2 separate regions of the Homo sapiens genome follow, and region 2 is linked to region 1. A link means that fine-mapping ties the variant in region 1 to the expression of a gene that starts in the linked region. Tissue or cell type: whole blood. Region 1 holds a variant in brackets; the other region holds the start of a gene. All regions are shown on one strand. Distances are from middle to middle.

The links. PIP is the estimated chance that this variant, and not a neighbour inherited with it, causes the effect.
Region 2: it holds the start of SOS2, and the variant in region 1 is fine-mapped to the expression of SOS2 in whole blood (INTERVAL, PIP above 0.99).

The regions. Positions count from the first base shown.
Region 1 is chr14:50,162,391-50,170,497 of GRCh38, forward strand. All of the region lies in intron 8 of SOS2 (SOS Ras/Rho guanine nucleotide exchange factor 2), which reads right to left. Among named protein-coding and RNA genes, the nearest start is that of VCPKMT, 50 kb to the left of the region's middle. The variant T/C (reference allele first, on the strand shown) is at 4,006.
Region 2 is chr14:50,227,764-50,235,870 of GRCh38, forward strand. It overlaps SOS2 (SOS Ras/Rho guanine nucleotide exchange factor 2), which reads right to left and starts at 3,815. Exons shown (of 23, transcript NM_006939.4): 1 at 3,434-3,815. The coding sequence starts at 3,520. RefSeq lists a silencer at 3,407-4,486 and an enhancer at 4,637-4,726.

The sequences.
Region 1 (8,107 bases):
CCAAAGTGTTGAAATTACAAGTGTGAGCCACTGTGCCAGGCCACATTTTCCAAACATATTTAAAAAGTTTAAAACACCTAAAGCATGAAGCTTACAACTTACTTTTATTCATTAGCAACTATGAATAGAGAAAATAAGTAACTATAAACTATTTCATATTCTCTAATGATTACTTTGTTTTAGCAATTTCAAGTTTACAAATCTTTGTTATATAACATAATCAAGGGTACTAACTTTTAACACTTCAATCTATCATAAACTTTTCCGTAAACAGCATCTCTCAAAGGATTCCACTGCTATTTTTTACAATATGAAATGTCAAGAAACCATGAAAATTAATTCTATCTCAATCTTTAGAAGATTTAGAAACTGACTTATTAATCTCTAAAACTCTGGTTCTATTTCATTTGCCCCAAAATGTTCTCTTGTATTTCACTCTCAGAAAGAAAGCAAATTTACTTATAATAAATAATTCAGATTGTATTGTATTGTGCTCCAATGTTTTGATTTTTTTTTTTTTTTTTGAGACAGGGTCTCACTCTGTCACCCAAACTGGAATACGGTGAGGTGATCATGGCTCACTGCAGCCTTGCCTCAACCTCCTGGACTCAAGTGATCCTTCCATCTCAGCCTCCCAAGTAGCTAGAACTACAGATGTGTGCCACCATGCTTGGCTAATTTTTTTTTTTAATTTTTCTGTAGAGATGGGGTCTCACTATGCTGCCCAGGCTGCCCTCAAACTGTTTTAATCTTTTGAAAGAAGAGTTCAAAGTGGAACATCATATAGATATTATATATATTATGTATTTATAAATATATATTTATGCAAGGATATGGGGAATTATGATCACTTCAGAAAATTTTTAAAAACTTAAATCTATTTTGTGATCTTTAACTTATTAGAGATTTTGTGATAAATTAAAATTTTCCTTATATTCCAAGAGCAATCTCAAAAGCATTCAGCAATGGTTCCCTTTCCTCAGCAAAGAACTAACTGGCTATTGTTTGACAACTTTGTCCATTACCTTTTATTTATGTCTTAGAAATTAGTCTCTATATGAAGCACAGAGCCATTTGATTTTATTTCAAGACACATGTAGAGGTCTTGTCATCAAGAGATTAGCAACATAAATAATGTAAATGACTATTATTAGAAGTAATACCTTAATCTCTAGACTAAGCAATAGAAAGGATGGAAGCAAAGTCAAAATATCATAGAAAGTTTGAAAAAAGATCTGTGCTTGGTTATTCTGACTTCTACAGGTGAAAGTTACTGGCAAAATCACTTATTTTGCTGCTTTAAAGATTTCTTACAGAAAGTCTTCTCAGCTCCACTCTAAAATATTTCTTTAATAAATATGAATGTTGATGACATCAAACACTTAATTAGAACTGTTTTATTCTTGTTTTTGTTTATCCAAATATCTAAATTATCACCAGTAGTGATATCCTACCAAAAAGGTATGATTTTCATTGTCTACTTGGTCTTAAGGCTGCTCAAACTCTTCCACGTGTCATTTTTAAATAACCATGTAATAATTATAAGCTGTAAAGGAGAACAAAATTGAGGATATTTAGAGTGGGATTTCCTGGTAATGGAAGTATATTAAACAACGGCTCTGTTTGGCATAATAATCTGATAATTTGCTAAATATTTCTTGAATTTTCAGCAGTGAGATTTGATAAACATCATATTAATGAATATCCAACTAATATTCTACAGATACTTAAAAGAATGTGTTCCAAACATCTTACACAGAAATTACTGGGCCAGGCAAGGTGGCTCACACTTGTAATCCCAACATACTGGGAGGCCAAGGCGGGCAGATCACTTGAGCCCAGGAGTTCAAGACCAGCCTGACCACACGGAGAAACCTTGTCTCTACAAAAAATACAAAAATTAGCCGGGCGTGGTGATGTGCACATGTAGTCCCAGCTATTTGGGAGGCTGAGGTGAGAGGATGACCTAAGCATGGGAGGTAGAGAATACAGTGAGCTGAGATTGTGCCATTACACTCCAGTCTGGGTGACAGAGTGAGACTCTGTCCCCCGCAAAAAAATGAAAATAAAAATAAAAAATACAAAAAAAAATTAGCTGGACGTGGTGGTGCATGCCTGTAATCCCAGCTACTCAGGAGGCTGAGGCATGAGAATCACTTGAACCTAGGAGGTGGAGATTGCAGTAAGCCAAGATAGCACCACTGCACTCCAGCCTGGGTGATAAGGCGAGATTCTGTCTCCAAAAAAAAAAAAGAAAGAAAAAGAAAAGAAAAATTACTGTACTGAACTATGTGCAAACAAGTAATGTACTTTCATGCCCCCATTCGCTTTCTACACAACAGTCTCTGACCTCCTTATCCACCCGGTGAATTTAGCCACTAGGATACAGTTGAAATGCTTCCTCTTGAAGATGCCTTCTGATTATGCCTTTTCCCTCTTAAATTTTTTCTTTTGAAATATCAAATTTATAGAAAAGTTGTAAAAGTAACACAAATAACTCCTGTAATACTCTGAATCACCAATTTTTAACATTTTGTCACATGCTTCATCATTCTGTGTGCCAGTGTGTGCAGATCGTTTTTTTAGTAGTTGTGATACTATCCACTCAGTTCCTTCCAGAGGAAGGGGGACTACGGCTGAATGGTTTTGCAGTAGTTTTTGGAATATAAGGAAAAGTCAAATGTATCACAAATTACTCTCAAATAGTATCATTCTCCTTTACTCCTTTAATATTTCTCATAGCTCATCTTACAACAAGGATTTTCTTTTACAGAATCACAGTATAGTGATCAACTTCAGGAAATTTAACACCGAGTAATCTACTGCATAATCTAATCTATAGTGTATATTCCAATTTTGCCAACTGTTTTAATAACATCCTTTAAGGTAATATTTTCCCCCAAAACAGGAACTGGTCAGTGAAGCACTAAATTGTCATGTTTCTATTGTCTCTTTTATTCTGGAGAGTTCCTAAGCATTTGTCTTTCATGACTCCCGCAAATAAATAAGGACACACACACCCGCGCACACACTGTTCTCTCTCTCAGTAGGACGAATACCCAAAACCATTATGTATTTTTTTTTACTCCACTGAACAAAGGAAAAATCAATAGGAATTTTTTTCTGCCTTCCCTAAGCAGAGCTAGTAACTCCTGCTTCATTGATCTCATAGTACTACCTCTATTAGGCTCTTATAATATTGTAATTATTTGTTTGACATCTATTTTCTTCACTAAATTGTAAACATCTTAATGCCTAGGGACACGTTTTATTCCTTTTCAGTTTACCTGCATGTGGTAGGTATCCACTAGGTGGTTGTCAGAAGTAACTGGAATAAATGACTACTGTATGATTTTGTTAAGTATTTAGACCAATAATGAATGTTTTTTGAGCTCTGCTCTGTGCACGCTCTTTTATGCATTAGCTTATTTAATTTTTATTACAACTCTGTAACACGAGGTACTATAATCATATGTTACAGATGAAGGAAATGAGGCACAGAGAAATTAAGTAATTTGCCCAATATAAATAGGAGAGTTTATATCCAAACCCAGGAGCTCTGACCCCAAAGTCTCTGCTTTTTTGCTACACTAATACCCCGTGGCTCTACCATGACACCAGACACAGCTACGCAAAACACTGGTCTGTGTCTAAATCTGATGACCACTGAGTTGAAAGGGATTCTTTCTATGTTGAAAACAAACTGGATAACTACTGAGTTTAAGAAATAAAATGAAATGAGTGTACTCTGGAAAAGAGGTCAAAGAGAAAAGATACCCTTGCTACATATGCTTAAAATTAAAAATAAAAGTGATTGTTTATTAATGGGTAATATCTTTTCTTTTTCTTTGAGATAAAGTCTCACTTTGTCAACTAGGCTGGAATGCAGTGGCACGATCTCGGCTCACTGCATCCTCGATGTCCCGGGTTCAAGCGATCCTCCTGCCTTAACCCCCCAACCCCTGAGTAGCTTGGACTACAGGCATTGCCACCACATCCAGCTAA[T/C]TTTTGAATTTTTTGTAGAGATGGGGTTTGGCCATGTTGCCCAGGCTGGTCTCAAATTCCTGAGCTCCAGCAATCCACCTTCCTTGGCCTCCTAAAGTGCTAGGATTACAAGCATGACCCACCGCGCCTAGCTTTAATGGGTAATATCTTATGAACCTAGCTGAAGAATATATTCCTTGCTACCTGATACTCATCATTATCCTTAGTTGTCTATAAGTGTATCCTGTCTAAGATTTTATATTTCATGTAAGTTTTTTCTTAACTCTGTATGAGAATTCACTGAAATATTTACCCTGCTTTTCTTGAAACTCCTACCAAATGCTACATCTACTATGGACATATGTGCCCACAGCAAGGGGAATTTCAATAAATTATGAATTTGTCTCTAATTCACTGTACTAGGAGTTCAGTCTAGGTGTGAAATAAAACATGTAATCAATTCTTTTTTATTAGTAATAAACTCTCTAGATTTTCATAAGAGTGGAGTTGGTAATTTGGTGGGAAATTAAATCCATTAAAACCTATGACTAGGCTGGGCACACGGGCTCATGCCTGTAATCTCTCCACTTTGGAAGGTCAAGGCAGGAGGATCACTTGAGGCCAGAAGTTTGAGATCAGCTTGGGCAACATAGCGAGACTCCCTCTCTAAAAAGAAATAACCTAAAAACCCCAAAACAAACAAAAAACCCGTGATCATATTTCTTTACGTGCTTTTTTAAAAAAAACACTAACTTTAAAAAAAAACACATAAGAAAGTTAACTGTTATTAACTTTCTTTCATATGTACCTGAATCATATGTCAGTACTGAAAAAGTAAATATGTAGTAAAATCCTCTTTATGGTCTTTTTTAAGAGTTGAGAGATTTCTTTCAATAGAGATTGCAAGCTCTTTATGTTATGAATATACTCACACACACACAAAAAGAATGACAAAGCAAGCCTGGGCAACATGACAAAACCCCTTCTCTACAAAAAATAAAAAAACAAAAATTAGCTGGGTATGGTGGCATGCTCTTGTAGTTCTAGCTACTCGGGAAGCTGAGATGGGAGGATTGATTGAGCCTGGGAAGTCAAGGCTGCAGTAAGCCATGAATGGGCCACTGCACTCCAGCCTGGGCGACAAGAGTGAGACTCTGTCTAAAAAAAACAGGAATGATAACAAGCAAATGTTGCATAATGTTAACAACTGGTAGCCAGGCGCAATGACTCACACCTGTAATCCCAGCACTTTGGGAGGCTGAGGCAGGAGGATCACCTGAAATCAGGAGTTTGAGACCAGCCTGGCCAACATGATGAAACCCAGTCTCTATCAAACAATACAAAAATTAGAATGGCGTGGTGGTGTGCACCTGTAATCCCAGCTACTTGGGAGGCTGATGTGGGAGAATTGCTTGAACCCAGGAGGTGGGGGTTGTAGTGAGCCGAGATCACCACTGCACTCCAGCCTGGGCGATACAGTGAGACTCTGTCTCAAAAAAAAAAAAGAAAAAAAAAGTGAGTCCAGGTGAAGGGTGCTCACCACTATTTCTGTAACTTTTTTCTGTTTTTCAAAGTAAAAGGTAAAAAAATATTACCTATAAACTCAATTGTTTCATATTGAAATACTGGTTGATCTTCCTCAATGAACCTCATTGAAGTTATTACTAAGTTTTCCTGTTAAGCTTTAAACTAAATTAATTCCTCTTGAGAGAGAATAATTTTTATTCTTTCCATTACTAAATTTCCAAGGAATGACCAGGGAGTTAGGAGAGTAAGAGAACATTACTTGCCTTTGAATAAACCAGTTCTAAAATGAGAGAGTTAACATGTCCTTAGTAAAAAAGGACAGACATAGATTATTTTCTGAGATAAGGTCTTGCTCTCTTGCCCAGGCTGGAGTGCCGTGGTGTGATCTCAGTTTATTACAGCCTCTAATTCCTGGGCTCAAGTGATCCTCTCATCTCAGTCTCACAAGTAGCTGTGACTACTGGCATGCATTACCACGCTCAGCTAATTTTAAAAATTTTTGTAGAGATGAGGTCTCACTATATTGCCCAGGCTGGTCTCAAACTCCTGGGTTCACGCCATCCTTTCACCTCAGCCTCCCAAAGTGCTGGGATTACAGACATGAGCCACTGTGCCTCGCCTATATACCTTCTTAGAGAAATGTCTAAATCCTTTGCTCATTTTTTTAGTCAGCTTGTTTTTTGTTGTTGAGTTGTAGGAGTTCTTTATGTATTCTGGATAAGAATCTTTTATCAGATATATAATTTACAAATATTTTCCCATTCTATAGAATGCCGTTTCGTGATACTGTTTTGGCTCAGTACTCATCCAAAATAAATTCTGTCTCATGTTAAGCCTACTTTGGGATGAGAATCATAAGAAAGAAGGCTGGACTAGTGTGACTCAAAGGTTATTACATCCCTTTAGTAGTAGAAAACACAATCCTGGAACAGTTTTAACCCACTGTTTTAAAGTATCTGCTTTGGTGATCTACCAAGAGAGATTTATTCTTGGATTTAGTGTTTAAATATTATTTTTTATTTTCCAAAATCAGATTTATGATAAAACAAGATGGAAAAACAACTATATGACAAGAAATTAGAGGATACCATATATAGTTACCTAAAATTATTTCAAAGTACATTGTTAGGCCTGGTGCAGTGGCTCACGCCTGTAATCCCAGCAGTTTGGGAGGCCAAGGCAGGCGGATCATTTGAGGTCAGGAGTTTGAGACTAGCCTGACCAACATGGTGAAACCCCGTCTCTACTAAAAATATTAAAAAAAATTAGCCAGGCATGGTAGCACGCATCTGTAATCTCAGCTACTCAGGAGGCTGAAGCAAGAGAATCGTTTAAACCTGGGAGGTGGAGGTTGCAGTAAGCCGAGCCTGCACCATTGCACTCCAGCCTGGGCGACAGAGTGGGACTCCATCTCAAAAAAAATAAAAATAAAAATAAAAAACAAACAAACAGGCCAGGCACAGTGGCTCACACCTGCAATCCCAGCACTTTGGGAGGCCGAAGGCAGGTGGATCACTTGAGGTCAGGAGTTTGAGACCAGCCTGGCCAACATGGTGAAACCCCATCTCTACTAAAAAAAAATAGAAAAATCAGCTGGGTGTGGTGGCGGTCACCTGTAATCTCAGCTACTTGGGAGGCTGAGGCAGGAGAATCACTTGAACCTGGGAGGCAGAGGTTGCAGTGAGCCAAGATTGCACCACTGCACTCCAGCCTGGGTGACAGAGTGAGACCGTGCCTCAAAAAACAAACAAAGTACATTGTTGGTTTATTGTTACTCATGGCAATATATATTGTTATATACATTGTTGGAATAATGTTATATTATTGTTGCCATGCAACAATTTATATTGCATGGCAATATATATTGTTACATATATATAGTTAACTCATGGCAGATATATAGAATATATATCTATAATATATTCACTTTATAGATAATACTTTTTTGTTCTTTTCAAATTTAAGCCCCATAAGGTTGATCACAAACTACTGTTTTCATTTTTCTTCTCAGATAAATTTTGTTTATTTATTAATTTACTTTTAAGACAGAGTTTCACTCTGTCATCTAGGCTGGAGTGTACTGACGTAAACATGGCTCACTGCAGCCTTGACCTCCTGGACTCAAGCAATCCTCCTGCCTCAGCCTCCCTAGTAGCCGGGACCACAGGCATGCACCACTATGTCCAGCTAATCTGATTTTTTTTTTTTTTTTGTAGAGACAAGGTCTCACTTTGTTGCCCAGGCTGGTCTTGAACTCCTGGGCTCAAGTGACCTTCTCACCTTGGCCTCCCAAAGCGCTGAGATTATAAGCATGAGGCACCTTACCCCACTTTCTAAGATAAATTTTAGATAAATTTCTACAAACTGCTTTTTAAACATAATTTTAGATTATTATCTTAACATATAATTCAATCTTCATGCAAGAAGGAAAAGAAAAAAAATCACTTCTTGATTTATAAGTAACTTTATAACATAATTCTTATATCCAAAGAAAAAAAATATAGCCAGGTATGGTGGCTCATGCCTGTAATCCCAGGACTTTGGAAAACTGAGGCAGGCAGATTGCTTGAGCCTAGGAGTTCAAGACCAGCCTAGG
Region 2 (8,107 bases), 65 kb after region 1:
GGTTTTTTAAAAATCCCTTGAATTTTCAATGTTGACAATGGTGACTTTGTCAAATACATATATATATGGATCTATATATGGGTATATATGGATATATACATGGATATAGACATAGATATCCAGTTTTCATAAAAACTAGCCAAAACTGGAAAATAAGCAAAAGAATACTGGCTGTGTTTCAGTACAGTGCTATGCTTGAATCTTTTATTAATTTCTACTGACTATTTTACACATCTATAAGATTAAGTTACAGCTTTTCAGCAGATAGAGATGCAAGTAATTTTTTTTTTTTTTTTGAGATGGAGTCTCGCTCTGTCGCCCAGGATGGAGTGCAGTGGTGTGATCTCGGCTCACTGCAACCTCTGCCTAGCAGGTTCAAGTGATTCTCCTGCCTCAGCCTCCTGAGCAGCTGGGATTACAGGCACACACCACCACACCCAGCTAATTTTTGGTATTTTTTAGTAGAGACGGGGTTTCACCATGCTGGCCAGGCTGGTCACGAACTCCTAAACTCAGTTGATCCACCAGCCTCAGCCTCCCAGAGTGCTGGATTACAGGTGTGAGCCACCACGCCCACTGAGATGCAAGTAATTTTTAGCCAGAGGAAAATATAACCCAAAGCCTACTCTTTTATGTTTCTTGTAGGGTATTAACTAATTCTGTATGTAACCCAACAGTCTTAATATTCCCTTATTAAATTGCCTATAAATACCTCCTCAAATTTTCATATTAAGTGACTTTAACATCTTACTAGTTCCCTCATCAATGGGCTGAATCAAAATAATTGATACATGTTCATTTACATTTGCATGGAAGTGATGACTTTACCTTTCTGAAAATTACGTTCTAACAGTTTTGGAGGTTCCACCAAGATGTCCAAGTGGACTAAACTGACAGAGCCAAGTAAGCTACATTGCTGCTTTCATAGACACACAAATACCCCTTACTGAACTCTGAGCTCAGAACCGCTCTCATTTACATAAACCAAAACCTCAAATTTTAGAATTTTTGGTTTAGATGGTATACATCTTTGGAGGGGCCTTTATTTTAACTTTGTACTCTTAGGATCCCGCATCATGTCAAGTATGTAAAATGTGTTCAATAATGGTTAAGTGAATTAATGAAGCTAGAATACACCACATGTACAATGGCAACACCAATTGAAGGAGAGAGATATTCCAATCAAATCCTAGTTGTCTTTGTAACGATCTGGTCAGCTAGAGGAAGGATGCCAAGTTCTAGATGCTCTGAATGTGAAGACAGAGACTCCCCCAAAATGGTAGAAATTCTCATTTTACAAAGACAAGGTGGCTGATGCATACCAGAATTTAAAACTTCCTGCAAAGAAAGAGTGAACCTTTAGCTCCCTAAGAGCTACAGCTCTTAGCAGGCACTACAGACCTACAAGTTGCAATGTCCTAAATACCATAAAAGTGGACATAATCTTAATTACTTTTACCAAAATTTTTCCAAAAATATAAAAAAATTTTCCATACGTATGTATTTCAATTCTATCACAACAGTAAGTTAATAGAAAATGTTTTCTGAATTCACCTCAAAAGACCAAATTTTCTTAGATGTATTTATTTCATAAAGAACATACTAGAACTGTGGAATATAACATAGTATCTACAAGGCACCTGAGTTCCAGGAAAACAAGCACAATATAAATGCAAAGTAATAGCACCAAAGCAATGGACTAGGATTGGATGCTAATCTTGGCTTCTCCAGCCTAACTTGAAAAAAAAAAAAAAAAATCTGGGTCTGGTGCGAGGTGGTTTATGCCTGTAATCCCAACAGTTTGGAAGGCAGAGGTGGGCGGACTGCTTGAGGCCAGAAGTTCAAGACCAGCCTGGGCAACATAGCATAACCCTGTCTCTATTTGAAGAAAAAGAAAACATAAATCTGTTTCTGGACATAAAGGATTATTAGAATCAAAGCTACCTATTGAACAAGTTATGCAACACACACCCAAATACTATTTGCTACCAGAAAGTTATAAATGGGTATATACCTGCGTCACATTGCCAACAATATAGGCCTACCTGATTACTGCACTCACACTTGTCTGTGGTCAAAGGGCTAATTACTATCTAGGCATTTCCCCCTTTGCTTTTAATTCAGGCCAGAGTTCATTTTCACCACTCAGCACACTTTTCATTTCTTTCCCTCTCCTTACAGAATTGGGCTGCACATGGAAGTAAGGTCAATTTAATACTTTAGCACTTGGTATACCAATGGAATAACTGTCTAGCTGCCACTAGTCATTTCTGCCAGGTTCTTTAAAAAGATACGACTTAGTGTTTGCCCTGAGGAAAGCAATACTTCCTTGTAAGAATTATGAAAATAAGGGAAAATCTGCAACTCTCATCGCATGAGGAAAATGTCTTTAACTTTAAAATACACTACTTCCTTTCATTTATAGAAATTTAATGTCTGAGGATATATTTTCCAAGTATAGTCTTTTAAATTAATCTTTATTTTTTCCTTATTTTAGAATGTATTCTTGGTTATTTTGCACAAAAGGCAGAAGAGACTAAGTCTGCATTAACGGCAAAGAAAGAAAGCCCCTGCTCAACAGGCATGACAGCTGATCACGCACCTATTCACAGTCTTTAAATGTCTTGATCTTACAGAAGGATTTATTATAAAAATGATCGTATGGTTACTACCTAAATTCACAGAGGAAGACCGCCACCATCTACAGGAAAGATGCACCCTAGCAATGCACCCAAACATGAAAGACTGATTTGCAGGAGTTGCCCCTTTCTTGTTCCTTAAAATGATTTCAAGTCCTAAATCGCAATTTGGTCGTGAAGACACTGAAGACACTGACCAAATTTTCTAAGGGTAATCTCTTGTAAACAGGTAAGACACCGTTTGCAGGAAGTGGGAAGGCGCTTTAAATTTACCTTGAGAACTGTAAAATGAATAAGAATATTATGACTCACTGACATTTCACACATGTGAAACATCCATATTACAAAAAACCATTGCCTCATAAGTGGATACCCTTGACAAGCAAACCGCCTAGGGGGAACACTCCCAAAGAACTTAATTAAAAGTAATTACCCGGCCTGAAAATGTGCTTTTGTTTTAGAAACTGTCTAAATACCAGCGGGACTTTCTCTTGCCCGATTCCAGCCTGAGGACAACAAATTGGTCAACGGCGGAAGTTGCCTGACGAAATGACTGCAACATGAAATCCAGTTTTATGATCATAACAAAACCTTCCTTCCGGGACCAGGCAAAAAAAAAAAACTTGAGAAACGTCCTTCAGAATGCAACAGGCAATTGTGAGCCCCCCATTGCCAGCCAACGAGAAACGGCTCGGCCCCGGGGACTCGAGCCCTGTGGGAGGGACGACCTGCTCCCCGTTAGAAGCTCGGGGGGCCACGGGCCACCCGCCGGCCGCCCCGCCCCTAGCACTGACCTTCCGCAGGGCCGAGACCAACAGTCCCCGCCATTTCGGACTGTTCTCCTCGCTGAAGAACTCGTAAGGCTGCGGCGCCTGCTGCATGGCCCCGGCGACAGCGCCTCCGCATCGGGGGCAGCCCGCGGGCCGGGCCGGTGGCCTGACAGGCAGGGCGCGGGCCGCCTCGCCTCGCCGGCGGCCGCCGCCTCCCGCCCGGGCCGAGGCTACGGCCGAGGCGGCTCGGAGGCGGCGCCGGCGGGCTGGCGGAGACCCCGGGGTCGGCTTCCTCCGCCGAGGCGGCCCTCGCCTCCCGCAGCGCCCGCAGAGGAAGCGCGGCGACCCGCAAGCCCGGGCGACCCCGGGCGGCGACCTCCTTTCCCGGCGGCGCTGGCCCGCTTCTGGGGCGGCTCCTCCTCCTTTGTCTGGGTTCGCGGCCCGTCAGGGGTACAGCTGGCCCAGCCCCGCCCCGACTCCCGCTACGGCCGCGGCGGGCGGTGAGCAGCGGCGGCGGCGGCGGCGGCTGCTCGTCTCCTCATCGCCTCCTCCCCGCCCTCCCAGCCGACAGCGCCGCCCGGCCCTGCCCACTCGAGTCACCTCCACAGAGCTCTGGGGACCGACCCGGAGTGCGCGTCGGGCGAGCGAGCCTCGCTATGGCGCGCACAGCGCTGGCCGCCGTTGCTGCCCCTTTAGCAGCAGCGCAGAGTGCCTTGGGGTCGCCGCTGAGCCCTGAGTCCCAGCAGCCGAGGCTCGGCCCGCCCCCTCGGCCCGGCGCTCATTATCCCGAATAGCCCAAGAGGCCTAACACGGAGCATGCGCGCCGCGGAGCAGGCACAGGCGCCAGCCCGGCGCGGGGGTGCGGGGCCTGGGGCCCCGGGGGAGTCCGCTTTTCCCGAGACTGTGCTGGGGGCCGCTCCAGACTCTTCAGTTTGACTGCTTTTTACCCATATGCTCCCTCCTCTCGACCTGCTTAAGACAATCCGGACTCGGTGCCACTCTTGTAGCGCTGGAGCCCCAGGACTACCGTCGTGGGAGGCTGCATAGGGACGTGGAGAGAAAGGGGCATTCGGGCTGGACAGGATATTTAACGTATTTGTGCTCTACGTGGCTTGTTTTCATGAGTACCGTATGTTTACACAAAGTAGGTACTATATATAATATATCGTTAGGAGATACAGTAACTATTTCTTAGGGTGATGGTGTGGGGACCGAGAGATGAGGCGTGGAAAGCCCTTAGCCTGGTGGTAGGGTCAGAAGGGGCAGATGACAGTGACGTTGATCAAGCTTGAATTGAAAGGTCCTTCACTTGCACGGGCCCCTGTGCGTTCACAAAATCATATCGTTTTTACAAAACTTTCAAGATATTTTCGAATTGTTTTCTTAATCGTGTCATCCAAATTGTGTAGGCTTCAGGTCCTACAAAACCTGGATCGGCGTCTAGGAAACACTCATTAGCAACCCAGAAAAGATCCTGACAAGCTTTTCAATCCAAAGAGGCATAGGCTCTGGTAACTCATTACCACAAATTTCATCCCACTAAAGAGGCTGAGCACATTACTTTTAACAGGTTGTAAAGAAGATATTTTACTCCCTGTCCCTAGCCACCAGCAGTGAGAAAGGGAAAAGACGAACAGGGTACAAAAAATAAGTCAGTACTACAATTCAGTTCCGGCATCAGTAGCTGAGCAATTATTCTCCCCAAAACATGCACCACTTTTTCATTTGGGCAAAATCAGAATGGCAGAGTTGGAAAATAAGATTATTTTTCTAATCCACTAAAGTATCCACTAAATCAAGAACATCCTCTAATAAATGGCCATATCCATTCACATGTACTTGGGATAAAAGGTGGGATGGTAAAATGCTTGTATTTCTCCCATTAATGTTTCAGTCTGTGAGAGCGAAGACTTTGGCTTATATAGAGGGTCCTTACTTTTCTCTCCTGTTCCCAGACTCCAGCTATAAACTACTGTGATGTCAAACTACTAGACCATGTATGTTCTCTTTACTCATAGGAGAGTAAACTTGTTAGAAATCTCATTCTTGGCTAGGAATATCAGAAGGCTTTTCTGGGCCAAGTCAGGCCTGAAGACATATTTTGTTTAGCTAAGGCTGTATTTAAATTTAATTGTTAACATTTTAAAATCAAGAGGCTTCATATAAAAATGTATATTTTCAGCTTCTCTTGACAAAGATCTGGCAACACTGGGACCTACTGCATTCGTGCAAGAGAGTAATCAGCAGGCACCGGGTAGTGGCTGCCCTCTTTATAAAAATATGCCATCCATTTCCAGTTGGCTATACTTCCCACCTGGCACTCTTCACCCTTTTATGTAACTTGCCTAGTCTCTACAGGCATCTGAGTTCTGATGTCTGGGCTGAGCAAACAGAAATATGATCCACGTGCATGTGGAGGATAGTCCAAGAATGACAGCAGTAAAAAGTTTCCCATTCAGGGCCGGGCGAGGTGGCTCACACCTGCAATTCCAGCACTTTGGGAGGCCGAGGCGGGTGGATCACCTGAGGTCGGGAGTTTGAGACCAGCCTGACCAACATGGAAAAACCCCCTCTCTACTAAAAATAACAAAACTAGCTGGGCAAGGTGGCGCATGCCTGTAATTCTTAGCTACACGGGAGGCTGAGTCAGGAGAATCGCTTGAACACGGAAGGTGGAGGTTGTGGTGAGCTAGATCACGCCATTGCACTCTAGCCTGGGCAACAAGAGCAAGACTCCGTCTCAAAAAAAAAAAAGTTTCTCATTCAGACAAATGGGCTATCTAGAAAAAATGTTGGATCCATACCCTATACAATACACTAGCAAAAACTCCAGATATGTCAAAGATTTAAATGTAAACAATAAAACCATACAATGATTCATTTATAACCTCAGAACGGAAAAAGACACTTTCACTATGACACAAGATCTAAAAGACCGATAAATTCAATTTTTATAAATGTATGAGCCGGGCATGGTGGTACATGCCTGTAATCCCAACAACTCCAGTGGCCGAGGTAGAAGCATAGCTTGAGGCCAGGAGTTGAAGACCAGCCTGGGCAACACAGTAAGACCCTGTCTCTTTAAAAAAAAAAAAAAAAAAAAAAAAAAAGGGCAAAAAAAATCACCAGATAAGCCAAAAGGAAAATGACAAACTGGAAAAAATAGCAGCAACTCATTTTTGTGGGTTTTTTGTTTGTTTGTTTGTTTGTTTGAGATGGGGTCTTACTCTAACTCAGGCTGGATTGCAGTGCAGCGGCATGATCTTGGGTCACTGCAACCTCCGCCTCCTGGGCTCAAGTGATCCTCCCACTTCAGCCTCCCGAGTAGCTGGAATCACAGGCACGTGTCACCATGCCCGGCTAATTTTTTGTATTTTTGGTAGAGACAGGGTCTCACCATGTTGCCCAAGCTGGTGCAATTCATTTTTGTAGTTAATTTCAGTAAAATATAAAAGAGCTCCTACAAATTAAAAGGCTAAAATTCAATAAGAAAAACAAAGGGGCCAGGCACAGTGGCTCAACACCTGTAATCCCAGCACTTTGGGAGGCCGAGGCAGGAGGATCCCTTGAGCCCAGGAATTGAAGACGAGCCTGGGCAACATAATGAGACCCCATCTCTATAAAAAAACTTTTTAAAAAATTTAAAACAAAAAAAGAAAAAAGAAGACATACAAATGGCAAATGGGATATGACAAGGTGCTCAACATCATTGATCATTAGAGAAATGCAGATCAAAACTACAATAAGATATCATCTCACCCCAGTTAAAATGGCCTATATCCAAAAGACAGATAATAACAAATGCTGTTGAGGATGTGGAGAAAAAGATAATTCTCTTTTGGGGGTTATACTGTTATCATTTTTCACCTATTAGAATAGCACAGATGAAAAAGTTTGATTACACACTATGATGGTGAAGATATGAGGAAACAAGCATTCTAATATATTGTAAGTGTATTAGGACTATAAATTGTTTCAACTTCTGTCAAGGGGAACTAGATAATATCAAAGTTTCTCTTTGACCTAGCAAATTCTAGGAATATGTCCTGTAGATATACTTGCTCTTACATGAAGTCACTTAGAGACAAGGTTATTCATTGCAGTGTTGTTTATTATACCAGAAGTAAAGCAAAACAAAAAACGCCCTAGAAATAAACAGTTTAAATAATCATCAGTAGGAATAGGGGACTAGTTCAATAAATAATAGTAAATCCATACAGTGGAACCTATAAAGTTATTTTAAAATAACCAGGCCTCTGTGGAACATTATCTAAGATATGCTGCAAAATGAAAAGTGCAGGATGTATAGTACTGCAAGTATGGTTCCTCATATATATATATATATATATATATAAGGAATGCAGCATTTTATTATATAAGCATTTGACTCAAATAATTTCTCTGCATTTACCGTATTGGTCTGTTCGCATGCTGCCAATAAAGACATACCCAATACTGGGTAATTTATAAAGGAAAGAGGTTTAAACAACTCACAATTCCACAGGGCTGGGGAGGCCTCAGGAAACTTTACAATCATGGTGGAAGGGGAAGCAAACATGTCCTTCTTCACATAGCGGCAGCAAGGAGAAGTGCTGAGCAAAAGTGGGAAAAGGCCCTTATAAAACCATCAGATTTTGTGAGAACTCACTATCATGAGAACTGCAGCATGGGAGTAATCGCCCCCATGATTCAATCACA